Regions from separate parts of the Homo sapiens genome. Here region 2 is linked to region 1. Evidence: fine-mapped expression QTL. A gene starts in region 1. The other region holds a variant in brackets. All regions are shown on one strand. Distances are between the middles of the regions.

Region 1 (11,344 bases):
TCCTTCATACTTTAATAACAGTGACTAACATTTATTGAACACATTTATTATTGTGTATGCCAGGTACAGCTTAAATGCTTTACATGTATTAACTCATGTTAACCTCAAAACAACTGTATACCTGTTTCACAGATGAGAAAACTATGGTACAGAGAAGTTAAATAACTTGCCTGAAAATAAAGTGCTACTGAATGGAAATGGAGCCAGGATTCAAACCAAGGCAATCTGTTTTTTTGTTTTTGTTTTTGTTTTTTTTGAGGTGGAGTCTTGCTCTGTCACCCAGGCTGGAGTGCAGTAGCAGGATCTTGGCTCACAGCAACCTCTGCCTCCCAGTTTCAATCGATTCTCCTGCCTTAGCCTCCTGAGTAGCTGGGATGACAGGTGCCTGCCACCACACCCAGGTCATTTTTGTATTTTTGGTAAAGACAGGGTTTTACCATGTTGGCCAGGCTGGTCTCGAACTCCTGACCTCAAGTGATCCATCTGCCTCAGCCTCCCAAAGTGCTGGGATTTTAAGTGTGAGCCACTGCATCCGGCCTCAAACCCAGGCAATCTGGCCTGAAGCCCATGTTTTAACCATTATGCTATGTGGCTGCCATTATCATTGTTGGCATATGTCAAAAAAAGGTATTATTACCTACTTAAGGCATTACATGAAGAATTCAGAAAGCTTTTAATATGGCTCTGTTGACCTGACGCTTCCTTTAATAAAAACTCTTCACAGTTATTCAATATTTAAGAATTGTTAAAGAGTGTAAACTTGGCCAGACATGGTGGCTCACGCCTATAATCTTAGCATTTTGGGAGGCCGAGGCAGGCAGATCACGAGGTCAAGAGATGGAGACCATCCTGGCCAACATGGTGAAACTGTATCTCTACTAAAAATACAGAAATTAGCTGGGCGTGGTGGTGCACACCTGTAGTCCCACCTACTCGGGAGGCTGAGGCAGGAGAATGGCTTGAACCTGGGAGGCGGAGCTTGCAGTGAGCCGAGATTGCGCCACTGCACTCCAGCCTGGCAACAGAGCGAGACTCTGTCTCAAAAAAAAAAAAGAGTGTAAACTTACATTATCTTATTTGATCCTTACGAAAACATAATGTAGTAGACAGGACAGGCACCACTGCCCCGATTTTACCAATGAGGAAACTAAAGTACAGAGAGGCAAGTTGTTTGCTCCTAGTCACAGAGCTGGCTGATAAAGAAGCTGGAACAAGGATGATTATCACACTCTTTCCAGCTGGGCAAACTGAAGCCCTGAGTTTTTCAGCTTCCTCACCATTATGTGGTAACAGACCTGGGCCTTCCTTGTTTCTTACGCTTTCTTCCTCTGAGCCTTGGCACATTTCACATTTTGAGAAGCAGCATGGCGGAATAAAAAGTAGGGGGGACGTGGGGCCAGAAAAGCTGATCTCCTATCTGAGCTTTCATTCTCACCTACAAAACAAGGATAGAGAGGTAGCCTCCTACTCACGGGGTGCACAAGCCAGTCTATCCAAAGCGCCTGACACTTGTGGATTGCTATGGTGGATTATTAGATGTTGGAGCAGTGTCTGCACCTCTCATCTAAAGTCATCCTTGGTATGTGGCTTCCTTTCTGCCTTGTACACATATGAGCTCATCAAAGTGATTCCTGTGTGACCTCTTCTTCATAAGGGTCATTTTGGGTTGAATTATCACAAAATCATTTCTGAATGTCTCATTTGAGCCAAGCCTGAACATTCTTCCTCTTAGATATAAAAATTCATTTTCTCTGAATATCTTGAAATTTGCCTTCCTAAAATATATCATATATGTCTGATTTGCCCCAATCTAAACTCTTAATGTACTTAGAATCTGTACATTTCAGTTTAGCTCTGACTTATACAGTCTTCTTTACATTGTGTTAGATATTATCTTGCCTTGCCCCTTTAATTATAGTCATACACAATTTGAAAGCAATGGCCATGTTCTACATATTTGTGGACCCACAGTGCATGGCACTGTCCTAGACATGTAATAAATATAATTATGAAATCACCAGAAACTCAGAATTGGAAAGGACTCTAGACCTTGTCATGCAGTCCATCTGGCCCATCAGGGCAAGAATTCCTTATAGATGGCCATCTAGCCCCTGCTTGAACACTCCAGGGCTGGGAGCTCACTCATTTGCAGGCAGTCTATTCTACTGTAGGATGGTTCTCTCTCCACCTGCCTCTTTTTATAAAAGAGATACACTGTCAGAAGACACACTGTCAGATTCCATTGCAGAGATACAGAGGAATCCTGCAAATTGTCCTCTGACAACCCTGCACCCACCTCACTGTAAACCAATGTCCCACAGTGCCTCTCCAATTCCTGCATCATCTGACCCAGCCCCACTTACTCATTTTGTAATCTTAGGTAACTTATGTCACCTCATTAAATCTCAATTTCTTCATCTTTAAATGAGATGAAAATTCCAACCTCACATGTTGTAGAGATTAAACATGATAACACCTATAAAGACATGTGGACATGTGGCCTATAGCAAGTACTCAGTAAATACTAGCTGGCATGAATGGAGAGTTACAGCAGATGCTAGCCTGATTGGAATACAGTGGGCTAGCCTAATAAGACATCCTGGTTGAGATGAACCTGGAGCTGTGCATTTAAAGGAGAAAACTAGGGAGTTCATAGAATAAGGGAGCATTTGGGAAGGATCTTCGGGTAGAAAAATAGAGTTTTCAGCTCAACCTAAAAGTATAAATTTAAATGTTGCAAGCCTGATGGGGAGGAGGGTCAGGAGGACCCTCTAGCAAAATGCACGACTTGACATGGAAAGTAATTGGGAATCACTCTAGGTTTATGAGAAGTAGAGTAACAGGATCACAGCAGCAGGTCTTAAAAAAACAGAGTTCCTGCTGCTATGTGAAGGTTAAAATAGAAGCAAAGGAGCAGACCGGGAGACAATGGCTGATTTGGATGTGGAGGACTAATCTTTGACATCTAGGATTTTTTTAGTTCTACTGTCTTTTTTTTTTTTGTTTAGTTTTTTGTTTTGTTTTCATTCTGGGCTATCAGCTGGTATATCTAGCAGCCATCAGGATTGATGGTCTATAGAACCCCTACATCCCTTATCCTAATAGGTTGTCTCAAATCTGTAATGGGCCAAAAACCAGAAAACCAATCTTTATTCATCATTCATTCACGTATGAATACATCTACCCACAGTATTTCGTTTTATATATATCTAGTATTTTATTACTATCCATAGTAACAACAACCACTGACCTGTCTCTAGAATAATTTGGAAACGAGTAAGACATAGCCATTGCCTTTAACGGGTTTATTAGACTTCTGAATTAAACAGATTTAAAAAATTAACTCTTATGCTCAACAGACTCTGGAAGTACCACAAGAGAGAAATGAACAAAATTCTGTGCCAGGGGTTGAAAACAGAGCAAATCAGGCTGCATTCGGCCAGCAAATGTTTTATTTGGCCCACACGGTGTTTTGTTTTTTTTTCAGAGTGGATGCTAACATTTAAAAATTAGGCCATTTCACATAAAAACCCAGATTCCTAGCTTCTGGTAAAAACAGGAAGAGCTGAGCACACTAGGCCAAATTCCTGCATGGTGGTAATTGGCAGGAGCTGAGCAGCAGCTGCCCCTTTTAGGCCGAGCATGAGCTCTGCAGTTTGCCACACTCTATTACTCTGACATTGAAGCCAAATGTTCAGTTGCCAGCTATCATCAGCTTGTGCTATAGGTACGTTTATAATAAAGTTAAAAGTAAAATGATTTTTTAAAACTCAAATCTCTATTAAAAGTACAAATGAAAGATTCACTGATACGGCTGTGTTTCAAGAAAAATGGGGTACAGAATACAAGACTATTCCTAGGGAAAACATACAATTCCTAGTGTTGAAGATGCAAATAAACATCTCCCATTTATGTTACCTGCCTGTCTCCTGCAGACATTTGAGTTTGCCACGTCTGTAACATAAGGAAAAATTAATGTAGTGGCTGAGAGCGTTGACGTTGGAGTGAGGAAGACCTGAGCTTGAAAGCTGGTTCCACCCCTCACTGTGTGACGCTGGCAAATTATCCACCCTCTCTGGGCTTCAGTTTCCTCATACATAAAATAGAGGAAATTATAGTACCTACCTTAGAGAGTGGTGAAGACACAACGAGATAAAGGATATGAAGTGCTTAGCCAGCACCTGGCACATAGTGTCAGCTACCACTAGTGCCGAACACAAAAGAGAGGACCCGTCTCCAACGTGAGCCTTGAAGGATGTTCAGGATTTCCGTGTGAGATGAGGAGAGACGGCATGCTTTACACAGAGAAAGATCTCAGAAGGGACAGAACCAAAGACAAGTAACCTGCTCCAGTGGCCAGAACAGAGGCTTCACAACAATGCTGAATGATTTTCAAAGTCAGGCCAAGACCTATCCCATAAGTAAGAATATGACAAAACAGACTGCTATGTTATAGATTTAGGCGATAACAATGGAATAGGACATTAAATAACTGAATCAAAAGGTGACAAAGTCATTCCCCTTCAGTTCTTTTTCAGACTTCCCAATTAGGAGAGCTTGTGTTTGGTGCTCATTTTGAGCACCTTTCTGATCATACCTGCCCATCTCCAGTTTTAGAGAAACGAGATCTCAGGTTTAAAGGCTCCCTAGCAACAATAGCTAGCTACAGCTTGTTCAGTTTTGTTTCTCCCTACTTTAAGTTTTACTTTTACACTTAGAGCAAGCGACGCTGATTTTATCTTAACATTTAGAGCAAGTGACACTGGTTTTCATAAATGGAGTAATAAAGTTTCCTTGTAAAATGTGAAATCATAATTAAAATAAATGAGACAATTTAGAGAAAAACGTCAAGAAAACAAGAGTATGGGTACTATGTGGATGTGGCAAGAACTGTGAAGCTTGAGCAGCTTCGTGCTGTCTCGTGGGTGTGAGATGAATCCAAGGCAGCGACAGGGCCAGACCGTGAGGGAAGAGCCGCCTCCACCCGCCACCACCTCAGGCGCGGCACCTCCCTTTGCCGCTCTCCAACCCTCGGGAGTTTCTCCAACCGCCAAGGGGCGGGAGGGCGACCCTGCAGTCTCCCAGGCCGGGGTTCAGTGCCCTCGGCCCAGGCAGCAAGCCCGCTGCCCCCCTCAAACACGCTGCAGCGGCTCGCGCACTCCCCGCGAGGACTCGACCTCCTGCTCTTCGCGAACCGCCCCGCTCCTCACCAGTGCTCGGCTTTATCTCTCCACGTCAACACGGCCCTCATCACGGCTTCCCTTACGGCTCGGGCTCCTCCTACCCGCCTCAGCGTCTGTCTCAGCAACCGCCTCACTAACGGTCGCCACTCCACAAGCCACTTTGGCTACCTGCGTTACCCCTGGCAACGTACATGCGCGGTAAGCTGAGTGCGAGGGCGCCTTGCTCCGAGCGCGCATGTCCGAAAGGGAAAGCCAGAAAAGCAGCAAAAGCAATGGTGGCACTGGAGCCCCTAAGGCGCCAGCGCAACCAGAGCGCGAGCGATTGGTCGGGGCGTGTGGGGGCGGTGCGTCTTCCTCGAGAATGGATTTGATTGGTGGAGCGTGGAAATGGCGGCTGTAGCCGAGGGGGCGGCCGGAAAGCAGCGGCGGCGTCTGGGGCGCTTTCGCAACATTCAGACCTCGGTTGCAGCCCGGTGCCGTGAGCTGAAGAGGTTTCACATCTTACTCCGCCCCACACCCTGGGCGTTGCGGCGCTGGGCTCGTTGCTGCAGCCGGACCCTGCTCGATGGGCACGACTGGGCTGGAGAGTCTGAGTCTGGGGGACCGCGGAGCTGCCCCCACCGTCACCTCTAGTGAGCGCCTAGTCCCAGACCCGCCGAATGACCTCCGGTAAGTTACTGTCCCCTTTTGGGCCTCAGTTTCACCACCTGTAAAATGGTATCGGGAGAGTGGACAGTGTGTGGGCCTTTCTAACCTTTGACAGAGGGTCGGCAGAAACCTCGAAGCCCACGGGTTTAGTTACTAGGGTCTGGAGCCCAGGTGCTCTTCCTGTGCGATCAGCCCTGGGGTGCGCTCGACTTCCTCATCTAAGATGACTAGGGAGACTGGGGGGGAGCCGGGAGGTTTTGTGAAAGAGGTCCCCTTGGGGTTGGAGGATCCTAGGAAGTCATTAGACTACGTGTGTGATAGGAGGTTAAGATTTACCTACTTTTTTCAAAATTTAATACTAAGAACTACTTTGAAAGAGGCATCACCTTCTTTTTACAGAGTCTTTTACCGAGACTTTGAGATGTTAAGTAACTTGCTGCTAAACTTACAGCTGGTAGAGCTGGAATTTGAGCCCCAGTCTCTTAAGAGTTTGTGCTGATTCCACCAGGCTTCAGTATTTTTATCTCTAAAATTGTAAACAATATCATTTCATAAGATCCATCCAGCTCCTCAAAATTATTTTACCCCAAATTACATCAGAAAACCTTGATTCTAATTCTAGTTCTTGCAGTTTCCCTATTTGTAGAAAAGAACTTGGGTTAAATGATCTCTCTAGACCCATCCACCTTTTACAATCTGTGGTTTAGTGATTAGGATACACTTTACTGAAATTTTTTTTTTAATTTTAAAAGTATGTTTTCATCATAGAAGACACATTGGAACTTTAATGAAGTTTTAGTTTAGTGGGTTTTTTTTTGAGATGAGGTCTCGCTCTGTCACCCAGGCTGGAGTGCAGTGGCACAATCATAGCTCCCTGAAGCCTTGACCTGCCGGACTTAAGCAGTCCTCCTACCCCGGCCTCCTTAGTAGCTGGGACCACAGGTATGCTCCACCACGCCCGGTTGCTTGTTTTTTTTTGTTTTTTTGGGTTTTTTTTTTCATTTTTTGCAAAGACGAGGATCTCACTGTGCTCTCCAGGCTGGTCTCAAACTCTTGGGATCAGGTGATCTTCCCACTTCCTCCTCCCAAAGTGCTAGCATTACAGGAATGAGCCACCTTGCCTTGCCAGCTTTTTTCAATAACAGTATGGGGGAGAAGTATTAGACCAAGATTTGGTAGACTTGGGTTCTCGTGTCTGTTCTGCAAGTAATTTAACCTGTCACTCAATTTTATCAATAAATTGAGAGTAAACCTTATTGTACCTACAAGGTTACCATGAGGATCAAGAATGAAGAAGATTCAAAAATTCTGTATCAAATTATTTACCTTCTGGAGGATTACATCTGATGAAAGTGATACACACTCTCTCCCAGAAATTTTACATTATGTAAAACTTTTACCTCATTTATTTGCAGAGAAGACAGTGTAACTCACTGATTTATTTAAGCATTTTCTGGTGCTTAAGAGCTTAGCTATTGGTTCATATTCTCAAATTTATGGTAAGTGCCCCCAGAAATCTTTATAATAGCCCTACTCAGTGATTAATCCGAAAAGTTTCTAGCTTGACTTTTTTGTTGTGCAGAGATTTCCAACACCTTTTAACCTGTGCTAGAGGATATGGGAAGCTTTTGGAAGACAGGAAAATACTCCCATAGCACAAGACTGGTCCACACTGACTTTAATCTCCCTCATTTTAATATGGATAATCTATGTGGTTCCTGCATTGTCATGGATTAAAACTGAGTAGGCAGTGGAAGATAAATTTTAAATAAGTTAATCACTTAGACTTTGTTTTTCCAGCAAAGAAGATGTTGCTATGGAATTGGAAAGAGTGGGAGAAGATGAGGAACAAATGATGATAAAAAGAAGCAGTGAATGTAATCCCTTGCTACAAGAACCCATCGCTTCTGCTCAGTTTGGTGCTACTGCAGGAACAGAATGCCGTAAGTCTGTCCCATGTGGATGGGAAAGAGTTGTGAAGCAAAGGTTATTTGGGAAGACAGCAGGAAGATTTGATGTGTACTTTATCAGGTAAGCATATAAGATGGTAAAGATAGTACAGCCAAATGATTTTGTCTGGGCAGGTAGTGGGAGCATAGCAGGAATCTTAGCTTCTTTATATTTTTACCATAAAACCATTGCAGATTCTATTCTTTCAATGTTGCTATTAATTACATCAAGTGATTTGGGGAAAATTACATACATTTTGTCCCTCCTTCTGTGAATGGTTAACGGGTAGGTTGCATTTTAGTTATATTTATAAATTTATATTGTCATAGAGGAAACCATTTAAAAGTGCCATTTATCACTCTTTTTCATTTTTAAATGACAGATACCTATGGCAACATTTGGAAATTAATTAGAAATCTGAAATGTGGTCCAGTTCTTTTAAAAGTCCCTTCTATTTACTAGCAGTAAGTTTCCTTTAATATCATTTTCTAGCCCACAAGGACTGAAGTTCAGATCCAAAAGTTCACTTGCTAATTATCTTCACAAAAATGGAGAGACTTCTCTTAAGCCAGAAGATTTTGATTTTACTGTACTTTCTAAAAGGGGTATCAAGTCAAGATATAAAGACTGCAGCATGGCAGCCCTGACATCCCATCTACAAAACCAAAGTAACAATTCAAACTGGAACCTCAGGACCCGAAGCAAGTGCAAAAAGGATGTGTTTATGCCGCCAAGTAGTAGTTCAGAGTTGCAGGAGAGCAGAGGACTCTCTAACTTTACTTCCACTCATTTGCTTTTGAAAGAAGATGAGGGTGTTGATGATGTTAACTTCAGAAAGGTTAGAAAGCCCAAAGGAAAGGTGACTATTTTGAAAGGAATCCCAATTAAGAAAACTAAAAAAGGATGTAGGAAGAGCTGTTCAGGTTTTGTTCAAAGTGATAGCAAAAGAGAATCTGTGTGTAATAAAGCAGATGCTGAAAGTGAACCTGTTGCACAAAAAAGTCAGCTTGATAGAACTGTCTGCATTTCTGATGCTGGAGCATGTGGTGAGACCCTCAGTGTGACCAGTGAAGAAAACAGCCTTGTAAAAAAAAAAGAAAGATCATTGAGTTCAGGATCAAATTTTTGTTCTGAACAAAAAACTTCTGGCATCATAAACAAATTTTGTTCAGCCAAAGACTCAGAACACAACGAGAAGTATGAGGATACCTTTTTAGAATCTGAAGAAATCGGAACAAAAGTAGAAGTTGTGGAAAGGAAAGAACATTTGCATACTGACATTTTAAAACGTGGCTCTGAAATGGACAACAACTGCTCACCAACCAGGAAAGACTTCACTGGTGAGAAAATATTTCAAGGTATCCAGTGCTTTCAAGCACTATTAAACATTATGTGATGAGAAATTTATAATGCTGCATCTTGTATTCGTGCCCATACATGGTTAAGATGTGAAAATAGAGCCAAGAAATAGGGCCAAATATGAGATACCAGTTGATCCTAATACTTTATCTTAAACTGATATTCAAGCAGTTTCCTATGGCAGAGAGAAAATCGGCTGACTGCTGTCGTGATGCCATGGCAAAGGAGAGTATTACTATTAACAGCTGCCATCGTCTCTCCCTGGTGCAGCAGCTGGGACTCTCCTCCTCAGCAGTGCTTTCCCTTCTTCCCATCCTCTTTCCAGCCAGTAATCTTAAAACTTGAAGGAAAATTAAAAGCCTTCACTTGTGAAAAATTTAGGGAAGGCTTCTTATATACATAAATGAGTGGAGAATAGTTGGTGTCTTCACACCCCTCCTGATACTTACTACTAAGTGTGACTTCCAATTTAATTTTGTATATATCATAGTCATTTTTATCTTCTATTTTAATGTAATGCTTCTCTAAAATGCTTTAGAGCTCTAAATAATTCAAAAGTATAATCACATAGTTCATCTATTATTTGTAATATGCTCTTAATACAGAATTCAGAACTTAGCAGTTTTGTCTTTATAATACCTCAGTGAATAAGAGATAAAAGGGAGACCTTTTGAGCAGCCCTGTATTAGTTATTCATTATGCCATTATGGTATAATGAATAACTCCTTTAAAGAATAATAATTTTACTTAAACTCCTGTGGGGAAACAGCCTGGAGAAATTTGTGAAGCAGGAGATTAGGTTTGATTCTTGTTCCCAGTTCTACCCATGATTTTATGTCTTTTCTGTGCCTGGAGTTTCTCTGCCTTTAACACAAGATGGCCATATATACCTAGGAACTGCATAAGAATTCTTCAAGTCTGTGTCCTAGACACTGAGCTTCTTGAAGAAAGCTTTGAGGTTTATGTAGATTTATTGCTAGCAAAATGGGCAAATATTAAAAACTTTTTTTTGTGGTAAGAGTCTAGTTCTCAACATGAGATGAAGTACTCTTAGTACGAGGTGTCCATGAAATAGTGAAGACACCCATTGGCTTAGCTAGAAATTGCCAAGTAAACCTGGCATAAAGGAGACTAGTAATTATTCATAGGAGCCCACAGAAAAAGTTGTCAAATCAGAGCAGTCAGAGCAGTTTCCTTTGTTCTTTTTTTTTTTTACTCTCTACTGGGCTTTACCTACTCAAACTAAAATAGCGAAAAAACAGTAGTCTAATTATCTGGAGACCTGGATACTTGTTCCAGTTTATAGTCAATCCCAGTATCATTTTGGGATGATTGCTTCATTTAGAAGCTTCACTTTCTTCATCTGTAAAATAGAGGTAACCATCCTGACTAGTCCTGTTTTTCACATCAAAAATATTGTAAAATGAGAAGTGAAAAAGATGCTATACAAATGCAAGGTATTATTAACTGATATTCAAATTGCGAGGGTATGGTTAAGGAGTATTACATGTGATTTTAGAAATTTGAGAAGTCTGATAACACTGGTTCCCAATAGATAGAGGTTCTCAATAGGTAGTTGTCTCAGGTGTTCTAGGGTTCAAATTGTAGGTTTTTCTGCAGATTCTGTTTTGTCTGTATCCCTTTTTTTGGTAAGCGTAAAAGTAAGTGTTCACTGCAGAAATTTTGGAAAATACAGAAAAGTAAAGAAGGAAAGAAAAATTAGCACTTGGCAACAACCATTATATCATTTTGGCTTATTTCATTCTTAACTTCTGTATTGTTATTTATATATGTTTCCCCTTTTTTATAAAATTGGGATCATATGTAGACTCTTGCTTTTTCATTTAGAAGTTAATAGGAAAATATTCACAATAGTCTAAAAAATACTTTAATGACCACATTATACAAATGCATCGTAATTTAAAATATTCCATACTGCCTTTAATTTTTCAATACTATAAACTCTGAACATAAGTCATAAAGAACTAGTGTCACAGAGTGGTTAAAGGTGAGGACTCAGGAGCCAGACTGTCTGGATTTGAATTTTAGCTGGGACACTTAGTATCTGTGTGATCTTGAGCAAGTTACTTAGCTTCTCTGTGCCTCAATGTCCTTATCTGTAAAGTGGAGATAAAAATAGTACCAAGTTCATGGGTCATTAGTTAGATTAATTGGGTATTTATGTAAAGGGCTTAGAATAGTGC
Region 2 (11,344 bases), 75 kb before region 1:
TTACACAAGGCCCCCCCCACAAAACACAAACTTCATCTGGGCAAGAAACACATTCTGACAGTTTAACTCTTTATTCTCCTTCACAGCCCAGCAGACCCCAAGGCGGGCAGAGGGTGCAGGCCGTCCCCAGGATGCTGGTCATGGGCCAGGGTCATCCTTGCACCTGCGGCAGTAGGGGCAGCAGCCATGCTGAAGCACCAGCAACTCATAGTCCTCAGAATGGAACATCTAAGGGAAGACAGCTGTAAGACCAGGCTGAAGCCCTAGTGCTCATCAGCCCTACGCCTGGGGCCAGGACGCACTGCCTCTCAAGGGGAGGGGGCTTGGCAGTGGTCAGGGCTGGACACAGACCTGCAGCACCTTTGTTTGAGGGCTGGAAGGGGAGATGGGAGGGGGCTGTGGGGTTTCTTGTTTTCTGAGTGAAGGTCAAGGGCACATCACGCTTGCTGGGCCCCCAGGATTTGGGGAGGATGTGGACAGCGCAGGGGCCAGTGAAGTCCACTTTAGATGCACATGGAATGCAAGCAGGGGAGAGGACAGACAAGCCTCTGTCCCAACTTGGAGCCATGGATGTGCCCCTCCTCCCAGGGGCCACGCCTCCCAGAGGGACATTTGGGCAAGGGAAAAGTGGCCAAGAGAAGCACATGTGAGCTACCAGGGTGGCCACCTACCTGGAAGCAGGAGGGGCACATGGTAATGGAGGCGTCAGGCAGCAGTGAGCGGAAGTATTGCCACCTCAGGGGTGGGGGCCATCGCTTGATGAGGACATCCCGGCGGCTCATGGAGCGCAGCACCAGCCGGCTCACCACCACTGGCACGAACTCTGAGCCACCTTGCTGCAGGGTGGGCGGGAAGGAGGCACAGTGTCCTCACTCAGCCACAGTGAGACATCTGTGTGGATTATGATCCTGGAATCTTTGGCAGTGGTGAGAGAGGACCTGCTTCCTAAACCCAGGTGACCCTAACAGTGGCAAGCTCCTCCCACCAGAGCTGAAGCTGCCTCCCTGTCCACAGACCTGCGCCCTTGGCCATGGTCCCTCGGGGGCAGCCATGGCTCCCACACCCCACAGGAAGGGGTCCTGCCCCTCCTTCGTGCCACCACATCTGGAAGTTCTGGCCAATCCTCCTCCACCACTGCGCTAGCTGAGGGTCCCCATGTGCACAGGAGAAGGGATGGAGGCTGCCCTCCTGCAGGTCACCCAGAGAGGCACCCTCACCTCAAAGCTCAGCTTAGCTGTGAACGGGTCCTCATCTCCGATGGAGTCCTTGGTCTCCACTAGCCGCAGAATCTGGGAGCCTGGAGGGATCTGGTCAAGGATGGAATCAGAAGCAGAGATGGAGACAGACCCTAGCCTCCACCCTACACCCCTGTGAGAAGACTCAAGGGCAGCCAGACCAGTGGAAGAGTTTTCCAGGTGGAGGAACAGAGGGGGCTCAGGCCAAGGAATCAGAAGGAAGGGACTCTGCTGGCCCTGCTGCCCTCACCCATTCCCCTCGCAGGCCACACACACCATAGCTCCCAGGGCCAGTGGGAAGCACATGCGGGCCCTGTGAGCCACTGCGGGTAGGCACGGAGGGGATGGGCCCAGGGATCCTGGAGAAACATTCAGTGGCTGCTGGGGGTCTGCGGGCACTTGTGATGGAGCAGACAGGGGCGAGAGTCCCTGCTGACCCCAGGGCGGGTCAGACTCACCTGGAGGTCCCTGGAAACCGCCCCTCTCCCACAGTGGTGGGGCTGGTAACAGAGGCCAGCAGGGGTCCTGCAGGGAGGCCCAGGACATGGGGACTGCTGGTACCAAGTTGGAGTGGGCACAGCACCCACCTGCCAGCACCATAGCACATATCATCTGTGGCACCTGAGGGAGCCTGGGTGGCAGAGATGGGTCCGTCTTTCCTTCAGCAAGCAGCTCTCTGAGCTTCCCTCCTCCCAGTGTGGCCCCTGGGGGTGGCAGCACCTGGGAGCTGCAAGGAAGGCAGGCTTACAGCCCCCAGGCCTGCAGACTCAGTCAGTGCAAGGGAGCGAGGCCTCAGGCCACGTGTGTGCTGTTCCCTGCCAGAAGCCCCTCCCATGTCCAGCCTGCAAGTGTGGCCTGCCCTGGACAACTGCCCTGGTGCATCCTCCTGGCCAAGGGGCAGGCTGAGCTGTGCCCCGGGGCTTTCACTGCCACAGCTGAGAGGAAAGCTGGCTGTTTCTGGGGGCTATAAGGCTGAGGGGATGTGGGGCTGGCACTGCTCCTGACATCTCTGTGTTATGGGGGCACCACGGGGCTGCCAAAGAATGAAGTTGCCCAGAGGACAGTGCGGCCAAGAGAGGCAGAGCCAGCCTGTGACCGACCAGACTGAGCGCTGGGCCAGGAAGCTTCCTCTCCTGCTTGGGGCTTCCTTGCACACCCTTTGCTTGTTCAGCTTGTCAGTTTTGGACTCTGTCACTTGCATGCGAAAGTGACTTGAGTGGAAGAGCTGGGGGCCAACACCGACATCATGACATCATGTCCCATGTTGGCTATGCAGGAGCTATGCACAGACAGAGGCACAGCCAGTGCCTTTTAGGGGTCAGGGGAGGGTGGGAGACCCACACGGGAAGACCAAGGTGCCACTTGCCACTTCTGGGTCCTTAGGCCCTGGCCAGCTGTCTGCCCATCTCTGATCCCTGTCCCTGTCCCATGTGGGCCTCTCCAATCTCTCTGGGAACACAGGGCCAGGCTCAGCATGGCCCGCGATCCCCTGGGACTGGGCCCTCCTACTTCCCGCCTGTCCCCAGACCCCTCACACAGCCGCACACACAGGCTCTGGCCAAGGGCATGGATACTGTTGTTTGCAATCTCTAGCTGTCTGTCATCCCGCTTGGGTCTCAGCACCTCCAGGTCGATGAGGGAGATGGCTTCTTCATCAGTGATCCCTTCCTCCAGGTAGAACTCAACCAGGTGTAGCACGTCTGGAGGGCATAGAGAAAGGGCTGAGGGGGCTGGAGGCCTTGCAAAGGACTTGCCGCCAGGCAGGTGGGGTGACCACAGAGTTGCTTCTCAACCCACTGGCAGCTTCACCAAAAGCAAGAAGAGGCAGCAGGGGCAGTCTCTGTATGTGTGTGCAGGAGCAGTCTCTGTGTGTGTGTGTGTGTGTGTGTGTGTGTGTGTGCAGGAGCAATGTGTGTGTGTGCAGGGGCAGTTTCTGTGTGTGTGTGTGTGCAGGGGCAGTCTGTGTGTGTGTGTAGGGGCAGTCTCTGTGTGTGTGCAGAGGCAGTCTCCGTGTGTGTGCAGGGGCAGTCTCCATGTGTGTGTGCAGGAGCGGTCTCTGTGTGTCTGTGTGCAGGGGCAGTCTCTGTGTGTGTGTGCAGGGGCAGTCTGTGTGTGTGTGTGTGTGTGTGCAGGAGCAATCTGTGTGTGTGCAGGGGCAGTTTCTGTGTGTGTGTGTGTGCAGGGGCAGTCTGTGTGTGTGTGTGTAGGGGCAGTCTCTGTGTGTGTGCAGGGGCAGTCTCCGTGTGTGTGCAGGAGCGGTCTCTGTGTGTCTGTGTGCAGGAGCGGTCTGTGTGTGTGCAGGGGCAGCCTCTGTGTGTGTGTGTGTGCAGGGGCAGTCTCTGTGTGTGTGTGCAGGGGCAGTCTCTGTGTGTGTGCAGGAGCGGTCTCTGTGTGTCTGTGTGCAGGGGCAGTCTGTGTGTGTGTGTGCAGGGGCAGTCTCTCTGTGTGTGTGTGTGTGTGTGTGTGTGTGTGTGCAGGAGCAATCTGTGTGTGTGCAGGGGCAGTTTCTGTGTGTGTGTGTAGGGGCAGTCTCCGTGTGTGTGTGTGTGTGCAGGGGCAGTCTCTGTGTGTGTGCAGGGGCAGTCTCTCTGTGTGTGTGTGTGTGCAGGAGCAATCTGTGTGTGTGCAGGGGCAGTCTCTGTGTGTGCACGCAGGGGCAGTCTCCATGTGTGTGTGCAGGGGCAGTCTCCATGTGTGTGTGCAGGGGCGGTCTCTGTGTGTGTGGGCAGGGGCAGTCTGTGTGTGTGTGCAGGGGCAGTCTCTGTATGTGTGTGCAGGAGCAGTCTCTGTGTGTGTGTGCAGGGGCAGTCTCTGTGTGTGTGTGCAGGGGCAGTCTCTGTGTGTGTGCAGGGGCAGTCTCTGTGTGTGTGTGTGTGTGTGTGCAGGAGCAATCTGTGTGTGTGTAGGGGCAGTCTGTGTGTGCACGCAGGGGCAGTCTGTGTGTGTGTGCAGAGGCAGTCTCCGTGTGTGTGCAGGGGCGGTTTCTGTGTGTGTGTGTGCAGGGGCGGTCTCTGTGTGTGTGTGCAGGGGCAGTCTCTGTGTGTGCAGGGGCAGTCTGTGTGTGTGTGTGCAGGAGCAGTCTGTGTGTGTGTTCAGGGACAGTCTGTGTGTGTGTGTGCAGGGGCAGTTTCTGTATGTGTGTGTGTGCAGGGGCAGTCTGTGTGTGCGTGTGTGTCTGTGTGTGTGTGTGGCCTCTGCTCAGCTCCTGGGAAGGGGCTTCTGATCCTCTGTCAACATCAAAGGAGCTGGGCCTTGATAACCTATCTCAGCCTCCTGGTCTGAATGCAAAGCCATCGGACTCTCTTTCTGGGGCATTTGGTTATGTAAAGCCCTGCGCCAGGTTCCCAGAGTGGGTGCTTCAGCTTTGGGCAGCAGTGGGTCCTATCTCTGGGAACACCGACAGTGACTCCTTGTGTCAGGTAGGTGGGCGTCAGAGTGTCCTCATTTCATAAACAGGGACATTCAGAGGCCTTTGGCCCTTGCCCAACGTCCTGAGGCCAGAGAGCAGTGGAGTGAGCCTGGCTGTCCACAGGCTGTCCCACCCACATGCTCAGGATGCAGGGACTCACCGTAGGAAGAGGCGGAGAAGATGAAGGGCTGGCGGCAGTTGATGCAGACGTTGCCCAGGTTGTTGAGCAGCGGGTTGTTGGTGGAGCAGCGGTAGCACAAGGGCACCAACTCCTACAAAACAGCCACGGACTCCCGAGGGGCCGGGGCAGGCACGTGTCCTCCTCCCCCTGGACTCTGGCTTC[A/G]GGCCCCTGGGGCCTGGCTGCCAAGAGGAAAGGCCACCCGGGTGGGCAGGCAGGGAAGGGGCGCCGGGCCCAGGAGCTCCATGCCATGGGGAAGCAGGATAAAGGCCTGCCGAAATACCCAAGCCCTGTCACTTGGGTCCCCGTGCCCAAGACACCTGCACAGGCAGCGCTCAACGGCACTTTTCCCCTGGCAGGAATGACAGTGGCCGCTGCCACCATTAGCCAGCCATTTACCATGCTCCGGGCACCGTGCGGAGCACGTGGACTATACTGGCTCATTTAGCCTCACAACTACCTGTGGGAAAGGGGGAACCCAAGGTGCAGAAAGATGGAGACAGAGCTAGGAGAGGGTGGAGCCGGGATGTGAACCCAGGTCTGTCTGAACCAAGTCCTTGCTCTGAGCTTGAGGGAGGATGTGTGAAAGAAGGAAGCTGGCTGGGTTGAAGGAATGTGGGTTGGGAGTGTGGGGTAGATTTGCTGGAGAACTACAGCCTGGTTCCAGAAAGGGCAGAGGTTTCTAGAGTAAGAGTCAGCTCTGGGGCCAGGCCTGGGGTAAAGGCAGAGCCACCTGGGCACAGAGGTGTGGGGCTTGCCTAGGGGAGGGCAAGGAGCAAGGGAGGCCAGGCTGAGGGCTGAGGCCGGGGCCGGGGGCTGTGAGCGGGCGCCAGGTGGACTGCGGGGAGAACAGGAGGTGGACAGGGAAGCACAGGGGAGCTGGCATGGCCAGGCTTGAGCAGGGGGCACAGAGCCTAGAGGGAGCTGCAGCTGTCTCTCTTCAAACGGAACCCAGGCCAGGCAAGAAGGCATGAGATGGCCTCAAGGGAGAGGAGAAGCCACCTGCCCAAGGGTGCTGCATCCTCACCTCACTGTCGTGGAAGGGCTTGGCGCGGATGGTCAGGGTACCCAGCTCAATGGACTTTTGGAATCTGGCAGGGATGTACAGGCCACGCAGCTTGTCATAGGCGTGCCGGGCCAGCCTGTAGGCACCGAGGGCCTTGCTCTGCTTGGCCAAGGTGAAGAGTATTTTCCTGCCGTGAACAGGGTTAAGGACAGCAGGGGCAACACCAGGCCCAGGAGCTGGCACTGCCTGTCCTTGGAGTGAGCCCCAGGCTGGAACACAGCTTGTGCTGGTGCCGGGAAGGCAGAGGAAAGACCGTGAGGAAGGCTCTGTGCGCTTGTGAGAGGTGAGTGTACTTCTCGGATGGCAAGGCCCAGGAATTTTTCCAAAGATAAAAACAGCGTAGTTTCCATTAATACTTTAACCTTGCTTAGCATCTCTGGGCCTGCTGATGGCTCATCTTATACCCTGACTAGGCCAAAATGGCTCTTCCTGCCTCACCAAACCTGCCAGCCAGGCCCTCCTAGGATGCCTGGCACAAAGGGCACTCTGCTCTCACCCTGCCAGGTGGGGCCTGGTCCAGACTCCCTGGGGAGCCACCCTCAACCCTGCTCTGAGGCCCCTGGGTGTACCCCACTCTGTCTGCACACCCTTCCCCGAGGGCCTGGTGGGCAGTTTCTGAGCGGCAGCCTGTGCTCTGGGGCCCCCTTGAAGCTCCTCAGCCAGAGGCTGACGAGCCTTTGTGCTCTCCTCTCAGGTCACCTCCGATGTTGGCTGCCCCCAGGCCCTCCTGCCCTTCCTCCCGCATCTCTCCCAGTGTTCCTGCTCCCGCCGTCTGCAGTGCAGCCCCGTCCACTTCAGCAGTTCTGTGGAGAGTTTCCTTCTGTGTCTCCAGCATGACTCCTCAAAGTCAGGGACTGTCAGGAGCCATTTCCAGGTCCCCAGGGGATGGCACAGGGTAAGGCTCAGGGTAGAGGTTCTATCAAGCTGTTGACTCAAACAGAACTTGCTGGAAAGGATGAGTACAGGTGCTCAGCCCCCACAGGCATAGCCCTGACTGCTCCTACGGGGAAAGACGGAGACGCATGCAGCAGAGGTCTGACTCCAGGAAGGCACCCCTTGATTTGAGGGTATTTCCCCTGAAATGTACATAATGGGCCTGGAATCCTCTAGCGAGGCCAATTCTTACAACAAGGAGCTCTGGGTCTTCTCCAGTGGAGTGGGTTTTCCTTACAGAGGGAAGGTGGGGCTGCGGCTGGGAAGGAGCTGAGAGTACAGTGAGATTTAGAAAAGAACAGGGACAATTATGTCTCCTGACATCCAAGACCTTAAAAATCTGGATCATTGCCTGGTAATGATCCAGTATCTGGCTGCACAGGCCCTTCAGGCACCTGCTCTGCTTATGGTACCACTGTGGCCCTCGATGGCTACAGAAGAGAGGAAAACCCAAAGGTAGGCTCTCAGGCCTTGGGTCCTGCTGCCTCTCCGGCCCCTCCCACCCAGGGTCCCCTCACCCTCTCCCACATGCCTTGCTTGCCTCTCCATATGCTGGGTCCTCCCCTGGAACATCCACTTGGCCATCTTCCCTGGCTGCCTCAGCTTGCATGATGGACATCTCCTCCTCCAGGTAAACTTCCCTGACCATGGCCCTGACCTCAGCTTCATTCCACCCTCAGACACAGCACACATCCACCAAACCAGACCCTAACTTGTGACCTCCCTCTTTGATGGCAGCTTTGCCACCTGGTGCCTGGCCCAGGGCTTGGGGCACAGAAGGTGCTATGTATACCTGGGCTGAACAAACACTCCCTCCTCCCCAGTCTGGAGAAGTGCCCAAGGTTCCAAGCCTGAAGGCCTGGTGCTTCTTCCATTTCAGTCACACCCTCATCTGTGGGTTCTAGGAGGGATTGGGACAGTGTGTTGGCCAGAGACCCACTGCTGGGTTCAGCTCAGAGAGCCCTGAAAACTCATCTTCTCTTGGCCTGGGCCCCTGGGCCTCCCTGCTGAGCCTCTATAGCCAAACAGCAGCGGGAGGGTGAGTTCTCTGTCTTCCCTGAGGGTTGCTGAGAGAGGAAGGTTCTGCCAGGAAAGTGCTCTGGAAGGAATTTCTTGGGGCCATTAGACAAGAACGGTGGTGGGACGGAGGAGGGATAAGAGAAAGGATACACTTTAGAGATGCCCGAGGGGGTGTCCTTGGGCAGGCTGTGCAGCAGGAACCTGGAGATGTTGAAAAGAGTTTCAGGACGATGGACACTGAACGGATCTTCCTGCAGTGAGAGAAAAGCAAACAGGGATTGAGTTCTTCAAGAGCTGCTGCTGGGCCAGGCCAAAAGGCAGACACCAATAATTCTGAGTGACATCAACAAGAGCGGCTCTGATTATTGAGCACCTACTCCTACTGTGTGCTGAGCGCCATATAGCCACTGTCTCATCTGGTCTTTAACATAATAACCTTGTGGTATGCATTTTTATCCTCACAGTACTGATGAGGAAACCGACACCTAGATAGATGATTTGCCCAAGTCACCAACTAGAACAGAGCTGAGCTGCTGTTCAAACCCAGGTCTGATTCCAAAGCCCAAGAATGTCTTTCTTCCAAGCTGTACTGCCTCTGGAGTTGGTAATTATTCCATTTCTCTGAACTACTCAAGTTGTCTCCAATTAGCTCTAAAAGAGAAGACCTTCTATGCAGCTTAGGACATAACCACTGATTCATATAAGCCTGTCTTTCAACAGAGGCATTTAGCCCTCTCCAGCATGAACCCACATGCCTCTTCTGTGCTTTCCAACAGCAGCTTGACTGATGTGCCACCAAACGAGCACACATGCGGAGTTCCTCAACTGCTGACCCATTTCCCTGGCTCCTGGCATAGGCACTAACAGGAGGCAGTTAGCACAGATTAGTGATTGGTCTTCGTACCTAGAGGCTGCCAGAAGCTCAGCAGACAAATAAGGAATTTTCTGTGTGAGGGTCTACAAAAGGTTAAGAATACCTTATTTTGAAGGCATCTGGCACACTGTATATAAACTGAGATTGCCCATTTCTAATAAAGCTTTAGATGGTGAGGATTACAGCAGGCCAGTAACTCCTCTTTCTTGTGAGCACTTAAGAAGGGTCTTGTGAGGCCCTACTCATCACTGAGCCACCAAAGCTTAACCCCTAATTGGTCTGAACTCCTGAGGACTCACTTTGCTCTACACTTCTTCAGTTCAGAGCTTAGCATTTTCTATTTAGTTCACACGTAAATTTCTATACCTTTTGTTAGCTCCAAGAACCCAAGAAAACCTGAGACCACATCCTTTCCAGGGTAAGAACAAGATGAACTCTGCCTGTGGTTCTACTGCACTAGGTAGGGAAGCTAAGTAACGTCCCAGAGAGAATAGGTAGCAGGGGAGTCCTTTCCTCTGGGAAAGATGCCATGTATCCAGGAAGGACCTGAACTTCCCTTTCCAGTCTTGCCCTGAATCAGTGCTGCTCTGCTGGGCCCTGGATGCTGAACCACAAACTACCACTCACCTCCAGGCCTTTGCACAGGCTGTGACCTTTGCCACAAACACCCTTCCTAATCCTCCTCCACTTCACTTGCCCCATTTTTATTCTCTCCCTCCTTCTGGCTGAGAGGACACCTCCTCCAGGAAGTCTCTTCACAGGCCTCTAAACGTTTCCCCTGAGGGATTGTCCTGTTTGCTAGACTGGGACTGACTGCAGGGACAACGTTTTGTTCACCACCGTGTCACCAGGTCTCATCACAGGGTCTGTCACGTAGTAGGCATTTATTGAATGAAGGAATGGCCCAATTAATAAGATTCAGCTGGGATAAGAGCCAGGGCCCCAGCTGGTCTGAGGCCCCTTAGCTCCTAGTCCCATGTAGGTCCTGGAGCAGAGCTCAGCTGTTAGAGACAGGAGCCCTCAGCCCCATGCCCCAGGTGAGGAAGAGGACAGGGAGCAGCGAGAGAAAAGTCTGAGGGAAGGAGCTGAGAGCCAGGCTCTGGAGTGGCTTGGGCAAAGTGAGGCTGAGCTGGGCCCTGACTTCCAGCCTAAGTTGAGTCTGGGCTCCTTTTGTGGTGGTTTCTCTCCAGGTGAGCACCTGATAAAGATGAGGGACCCTGAGGGGGTCTCGTTTCAGGAAAGCCAAAGACTGTAAGGGAAGATGAGGTCCCTTGAGACCACTGACCCTGCTGTGGGAAGAGATGTAACACTAGACTGACGGCATGCACAGAGCCTGTCAGGAGTCCTTCTTGCCAGACTTTCCCAAGAGGCAAAAAATGTGCTGAGAAGTCAGCACAGATTAGAGGGAAAGAAATGCCCAAGGTGGAAGGCAGGGCATTTGAGAGGTCAAAGAACGGCGGGAAGGCTGGGCGTGGTGGCTCATGCCTGTAATCCCAGTGCTCTGGGAGGCTCAGGCAGGAGGATCACTTGAGTCCAGCAGTTTGAGGCTGCCATGAGCTATGATCATGACACTGCACTCCACCTTGGGCGACAGAGACCTCATCTCTGAAAAAAGAGAAATGCTAGATGCCCAGCTGGAGGGAGCAGGTCAGGGAAAGCTGGCGTGAAGCCTTGCCTGGAGCAGCAGTAAGGATAGCTGCCACCTAGGGTCACTCTGTGCTAGGTACTCTTCCAATATTAACTCGTCTAATCCTCAAAACAATCCCATCAAGTACATAGTGCTGTTATCCCTATTTTATAGAGAAAGAAGCTGAAGGCCAGAGAAGATAAGTAACACAGTGTCATTTGTGTGTGAGGACTCTCGAGTTTACCCACTAAACCAACATACTAGCCTGCTTTCTCTAAAAGGAGACAGGGAGGGAAAGGCTAGGAACACAGGCTCCAGTGCCAGACTACTGAGACTCACATATTGGCTCTGGAATTTGCTGTTTGATAGTAGAATACATTCTTAAATGTGGTTATGTTATACATCATTTCAACGGGCATTTCTCGCTTTATGTTTTTTTGCTAATGAGTTATTACTTACTGTTTATTTTAGACTATGCAAATGATGTTAGACAAAAAACAAATTCAAGCAGTTTTCTTATTTGAGTTCAAAATGGGTCATAAAGCAACAGAGACAACTCGTAACATCGACAACGCATTTGGCCCAGGAACTGCTAACAAACATACAGTGCAGTGGTGGTTCAAGAAGTTTTGCAAAGGAGATGAGAGGCTTGAAGATGAGGAGCATAGTGGCCGGCCACTGGAAGTTGACAACAACCGAGAGCAATCATCGAAGCTGATCCTCTCACAACTACAGGAGAAGTTGCCGAAGAACTCAATGTCAACCATTCTACGGTTGTTTGGCATTTGAAGCAAATTGGGAAGGTGAAAAAGCTTGATAAGTGGGTGCCTCATGAGCTGATAGAAAATGAAAATATAGTCGTTTTGAAGTGTTGTCTTTTCTTATTCTATGCAACAACAACAAAACATTTCTCAATCAGATGTGAGGTGTGACAAAAAGTGGACTTTACATGACAACCGTGATGACCAGCTCCACGGCTGGACTGAGAAAAAGCTCCAAAGC

What was found. PIP is the estimated chance that this variant, and not a neighbour inherited with it, causes the effect.
Region 2: its variant is fine-mapped to the expression of IFT122 in whole blood (TOPMed, PIP above 0.99).

The regions. Positions count from the first base shown.
Region 1 is chr3:129,434,238-129,445,581 of GRCh38, reverse strand. IFT122 (intraflagellar transport 122) reads right to left here and starts at 5,358. Exons shown (of 30, transcript NM_052989.3): 1 at 5,211-5,358. The coding sequence starts at 5,251. It overlaps MBD4 (methyl-CpG binding domain 4, DNA glycosylase), which reads left to right and starts at 5,634. Exons shown (of 8, transcript NM_001276270.2): 1 at 5,634-5,852; 2 at 7,632-7,862; 3 at 8,274-9,121. The coding sequence starts at 5,749. RefSeq lists enhancers at 4,355-4,404, 4,805-4,854, 4,885-4,934, 5,085-5,294, 5,495-5,634 and 1 more.
Region 2 is chr3:129,509,060-129,520,403 of GRCh38, reverse strand. It overlaps IFT122 (intraflagellar transport 122), which reads right to left. Exons shown (of 30, transcript NM_052989.3): 24 at 7,992-8,092; 25 at 5,850-6,015; 26 at 4,805-4,916; 27 at 2,810-2,935; 28 at 1,218-1,297; 29 at 672-836; 30 at 1-228. The coding sequence ends at 139. Among named protein-coding and RNA genes, the nearest start is that of RHO, 14 kb to the left of the region's middle. The variant A/G (reference allele first, on the strand shown) is at 4,988.